Regions from separate parts of the Homo sapiens genome. Here region 1 is linked to region 2. Evidence: fine-mapped expression QTL. A gene starts in region 2. The other region holds a variant in brackets. All regions are shown on one strand. Distances are between the middles of the regions.

Region 1 (2,918 bases), 58 kb before region 2:
GTGTGCATGTGTCTTTATAATAGAATGATTTATATTCTTTTGGGTATATACCCAGTAATGGGATTGCTGGGTCGAATGGTATCTGTCTTTAGGTCTTTGAGGAATCAACACACTGTCTTTCACAATGGCTGAACTAATTTACACCCCCACCAACAATGTATGAGCATTCCTTTTTCTAAAGAGACTTAAAAGACCTAATCAATCAACCATAATATGTGGCCCTTATTTGGATCCTAACTCAAAAACTTACAAAAATTGAGACTAGGGATCTTAAAGACTGCCTGGATTTTTAACGATATATTAACTACATATAATTATATCTACATATGACAACTTATATATAAAACCATAAATTTTCTTAAGTGTGACAATTGGAATATTTACAAGTAAAATGATATGGTCTCTAGGATTTGCTTCAAAATATATCTAATGTGGGGGCAATGTGTGAGAGTACACATGGGTTCATTTATACTATTCTATGTATAAATTACCTTGAATTTTTTTCCAAAGAAAATAATTAAAAAATAAAATACAAACACAAAAACCAAAGTCAGTCTATTATTAATGCCTCTTTCTTGGCTGTAATGCAGATATCTCACATCTTCCTTACAAACATGCTGTAAAGATAAATGAGTTATTTGAAAAGTGCTTCGTCTGAAGTCCTGTTAATCAGCAATGAAGACAAAATGTTGGTGCTAAAAACAAGCTTTAGACTTTATATATACTCTAATGACAAAAAAGGATATCTTCATGTATACGACAAGGAATGTTTGAAATATGTAATGCATAGCTGTAAGTTAAACCAACCATGAGGTATGATTAGTATCAGTTTAATATAATTATTTTAAATTTATATTAATTAAATCAGATGTAAACTCCTACAGGAAAATGTTTGAAAAATTATTTTTGCTATATTTACTTTTAAAAATCTGAATAGTTGATATGATTAGATATTAAGGAAACTAATATAATTGGATTAAAATCCCATGTGCTTCATAATAATTTTGCTTTCTAGGTTCTATGATAAATATAATAGTTAAAAGTATTTTCAAAACAATTTATCCAAAGTCTACTACACTAAATAGTGTTATTGACTTGTTTAGTACAGATTTTATTAAAATGAATGATGTATATAATATTTAAAACAAGAAAAGGCTTGATCTCAAAGACTCACACTTTTTTTTAACCGTCACACCCCTCACCATATTGACAATGGATAAAGCTTTAGTTAACAAAATGCTTTCTATAATGTGTAGGAAATTCAGTTAAGTACCTGTTATTGAGAATGTCTTGCTCAAGAACATTCTTGTGAAGTTTTCTGAATTTGAAGCAATCACTTTGAAGTAAATCACCCTTTCAAATTTGGATTGACAATGGGAGGGGAATAGCTCTTAGGCTTTTCTTCCCTTAATGTGACTATTTCCACAGATGGCTCCCTATGAAAATTAATGAACTAACTTAGCCTTACAAGAAATGCCATTTAGAAGGACAAGAATTATAGCTTGAGAACAGATCCTGTGATCTAAATAACAGAACTATTATTTATATACCTTAGCAATTGTGAAATTTATGTTTTCAAATAATTTTTAAGTAGCATTAAGGAAAATTATTTTCATGAGAAAAGAAGAAAGACAATCAAAAGACAAAAAACTCTGATTTGTATTTAATGTTTAACATTATTAAGCTTAAAGATCTTAGAGACCATTAGAAATATACTAAAAACTAAAAGAGAAACACTATTCTTTTTTCTTGAGATGGAGTCTCACTCTGTCACCCAGGCTGGAGTGCAGTGGCACAATCTCGGCTCACTGCAACCTCCACCTCCCAAGTTCAAGCAATTATCCTG[CCTTA/C]CTTAGCCTCCCGAGTAACTGGGACTACAGGCGTGTGCCCCCATGCCTGGCTAATTTTTTGTGTTTTTAGTAGAGATGAGGTTTCACCCTGTTATCCAGGATGGTCTTGATCTCCTGATCTCCTGATCCGCCCGTGCTGACCTCCCAAAGTGCTGGGATTACAGGCGTGAGCTACCGCACCCAGCCGAGGAACACTATTCTTAAAAGTTTTACTTGATCCTTACCTGCTGTATCAGAAAATACCAAACTGGTTTTTATCCTTTGTTTATTTAAGAATACATTGTTCGAGACCACCCTGGGCAACATGGTGAAACTCCATCTCTACTTAAAAAAAAAATATATATATATGGGGTAATTAAAACTTTTAGGTAAATAATAGTTATGGCCAGTAGCTAGCTGTTTTGTAGGCACTACCAACAGGGCACAGCGAAAACTTCAAAAATTAGCCGGGCATGGTGGTAGGTGCCTATAATCCCAGCTACTCAGGAGGCTGAGGCAGGAGAATAGCTGGAACCTGGGAGGTGGAGGTTGCAGTGAGCCAAGATGGCACCACTGCAATCCAGCCTGGGCAACAGAGTAAGACTCTGTCTCAAAAATAAATAAATAAATAAATAAATAGGAAAAAAAAAGAATATACTAAGAGACTGGGTATGGTGGCTCATACTTGCAATCCCAGCACTTTGGGAGGCTGAGGCAGGCAGAATTGCTTGAGCCGAGGAGTTTGAGACCAGCCTGGGTAACATGGTGAAACCCTGTCTCTACAAAAAATACAAAAATTAGCCAGGTGTGGTGGCACGTACCTGTAGTCCCAGCTACTAGGGAGGTTAAGGTGGGAGGATCCCTTGTGTCTGGGAGGTGGAGGCTGCAGTGAGCTGTGATGGCACCATTGCACTCCAGCCTGAGAGACAGGGCCAGACCCTGTCTCAAACAAACAAACAAACAAAAAACCAAAAAGAAAACGCTAATAGCATGTCTCCCTTACAAATCTGCAAGGTAAGAAAAACAATCAAAATATCTACATTAGATTTAAAAACCAAGTAATTTAAAACACTGAATAGATAAAAACCT
Region 2 (2,918 bases):
ATTTTTCACAGTATTATTGAAAACTAATAATTTTGTGTCTGCTAAGGAAATCCCAGATTTTTAAACAAAGATATCAGGTGCCTCCATATGAATGAAATTGCAAATATTCTACCAATTTTGACCTACAAAACTGGCAATTTCATATGGCTTAACCTATTTCTGAAGTAGGTAAAAGAAGGTAGAGATTAAAATAGAAGTGAAGGTCCAGCTTAAAGACATCAGAGTTTTCTTTTAAGACCCTAAAGTTATGGTTAAGAGTGAAAAGTGGTAACATTTTAATAACTGATGCTGCCAAGAAATAATGTTGGTTTAGTAAAAAGTAAAATAAAAAGGTTTCTAACGCATTTTACATGGCTCAAAAGCAAACATCAAACTTCTATCCAATGTCACGTGTACTCCCTCTTTCCTTTCAAATGATTTGAGAAAGAACCCAGTATCAAACCTTCAACTTTTTCTAAAGTGCAGAGGTTGCTGTTTGCCTCTACTCCGCTCCGAACCCCCTCCCCCCAACCAGTTCTGTGTTGTGTGTAGACATCGCTCCATTACTGTGCTTCCCATTAAATCCGTAATAAGCCAGCTGTCCACTGGCCTCGCTGGGTTTCTTGGGAATCGAGGGGCTCCCATTTCCCCGGCATCACCTACACCTGCAAAAAGACAGGCGTCCAAAGCCTGGGGAGGGCAGCGGACAGGTGCGCCCGCAAACGCGCGCCTGGACCCCGGCACCGCCTTCCCAATCCGGACCTCAGCTGCCTGAGAAACTCGGGGGTTCCGATGTCCAGGCCCTTTAGAGCCCCAAGAGCGCAGTCTCCTAATCCCTCCCTTTGTTTCTGGCCACCGCTGAAATAGAGGAGCGGGGGAGAGGCTTTCCCGACTCCTCCACAAAGCAAATGCGCGAGGAACAGAACCCCGGCTCCCTCACCTTCCGCGGCAGGGTCCCTCCCGCAACTCACCTGCTGGGTGGGAAGCCCCGCCAGGCGGAGCGCAGGACCCCTCAGGCTCGGCCCCTCCATCTCCAACGCGAACTGTCCGGGCCGTCGCCACTCCTTCAAAGGGAAGATTTGAAAAGCCCGCCCCTGGCAGGAGCCGCAGAGGACGCCAACCGCCCGGCCGTACCAAGTCCCAGTCGCAGGGGCCGGGGGCGCAGGAGGAGCCGGGCCGAAGCGCACGCGCAGTGGGCGCGCCTTGCGCTCTGCAGCTCCCGCCGCCGGAAGTTGCCGAGACCCCAGGCTCTAGCGCGGCGGGGCGGGGGAGAGGGCGGCGGTGCCGGACTTAAGTCCCGGACAGGGATGTGGGCGGGCCTGGGACGGGAGTGGGAGGGGCCGCGGGGAAAGCTTCGGCGGCGGAGCGCACCTGTCCCAGCTCAGGTTTCTGGCTGGTGGTTTTCGTGGCACGCCCTTTGCACTGGGAGCTTTCTGCCCGCATCCCACCGAAGGCCTTCCAAAGTGATCGTAGCTGGACAGACTCGAGGCTGCAGTCCCTGTACTCCCAGACAACTCAGGAACCCACAGCGTCACTAAGAGCCCACGGTCTCGTTCCTAAAGAACCAATAACATTACTCTCAAACACAGCGCTCTCTGTTTCCTCTCACCTTTCCCAGCGTTGTCACCAGGGTCACCCAGATATCATGGTTTTATTCATCAGGTTCGTGAGATACTATGTCAGGCATTTCACAAGGTCTTGTCTTTGCCCCCAGTGTTTATAATCCCAGATGTTCCCCGCCAACTACTCTGTCCACTTACTTTGTTTTCTTGCGAAGGATTTCTTTCAGCTCTCTCGCCCTCTCTTTCCCTCTCCAACATCTAAGGTGATAGCAAAATGGGGTACTATTTCTCAAGAGCCTCATTTCTTGCTGCCCTAAAGATTAGCACAAAGACCCATTTTAATTCATGGATTTTGTTAATTATAAAGGGAAACATGGGATTTTTAAAAATCAAAATGAAAGCAGCAAAGATATCACACCCTTGAAAAGTCCTTAAAATTCATTGTCCCTAGTTTATCTTTATTTCCCCCTTGAAAAGGCAAGAGGAAGCCTCTTCTTGAAGAGTCTACCAAATCAACCCTCCAGCCCTCATCGCCTAGAAACCCTTGGGCATTTTTCCTCCATAAATAGGTGCCCATGTTTTTTCATTTGCCTGGGACAGACCCTGTCTGGGTCTGTTGTCCCAATGTTGCACCAATCTTGCACTTATCCCGTAGTGGATATTATGTGGTCATTTTAACTGCAAGACCCTTTTAAAAGCAGTTGGTTTGAGAATGTACTTTAAAAATATAATGGATACCCTTCCTCAAATAGGTAAAATGCCTCTTTAAGACCTTTTGGACTAGGTGATACTAGAAGCTTCCCAGTTGGGAATGATGGTCCCCTTGCATTATGAATGACCCATATCCTTACAACAATAAAATATGTGTTCAAAATTATCAACACGGAGCTCACCTCGTTTTCTACAAACACAGGTCTGAATTTCAGAATCATTATGTGCCCTTTCCTCCAATGCACATCTCTGTCTTATGCTACCACTTTGTGGTATAATTATCTCCTACTCAGTATGAGGCTGCATGAGCCTAGCTGTAGTACCTGACTCAAAAGAAAAACACACCGCGAGCCCATCATCAGACACATAGTACTTACAACACATACAGCTCTCAGTTGCAGATCAAAATACATGTAGAAGCCAGCACTTCATTAAAACAGAGGTGAGTCAACCAGTTTAGAATTGGACACTGATAGAGGAGTATTTGATGAGTTAAAACCAGATATTTAACTGGAGATACATTTATTTATGATACTAGAAGAAAGAGATTAGGCAAGATCATATTTAGTAATTATCTGTAGAATACAGTTGTTACAAGAGACCTTTCTCTTGGGAGAAGAAGTTATGATGTGGTCCTGTTTTTATTATACACCGGGAGAGGTCCCC

What was found.
Region 1: its variant is fine-mapped to the expression of RTKN2 in whole blood (TOPMed, PIP above 0.99).

The regions. Positions count from the first base shown.
Region 1 is chr10:62,209,928-62,212,845 of GRCh38, forward strand. All of the region lies in intron 9 of RTKN2 (rhotekin 2), which reads right to left. Among named protein-coding and RNA genes, the nearest start is that of LINC02621, 48 kb to the right of the region's middle. The variant CCTTA/C (reference allele first, on the strand shown) is at 1,847.
Region 2 is chr10:62,267,601-62,270,518 of GRCh38, forward strand. It overlaps RTKN2 (rhotekin 2), which reads right to left and starts at 1,244. Exons shown (of 12, transcript NM_145307.4): 1 at 951-1,244. The coding sequence starts at 1,010. The region is part of intron 1 of LINC02621 (long intergenic non-protein coding RNA 2621); the gene reads left to right. RefSeq lists a silencer at 996-1,325.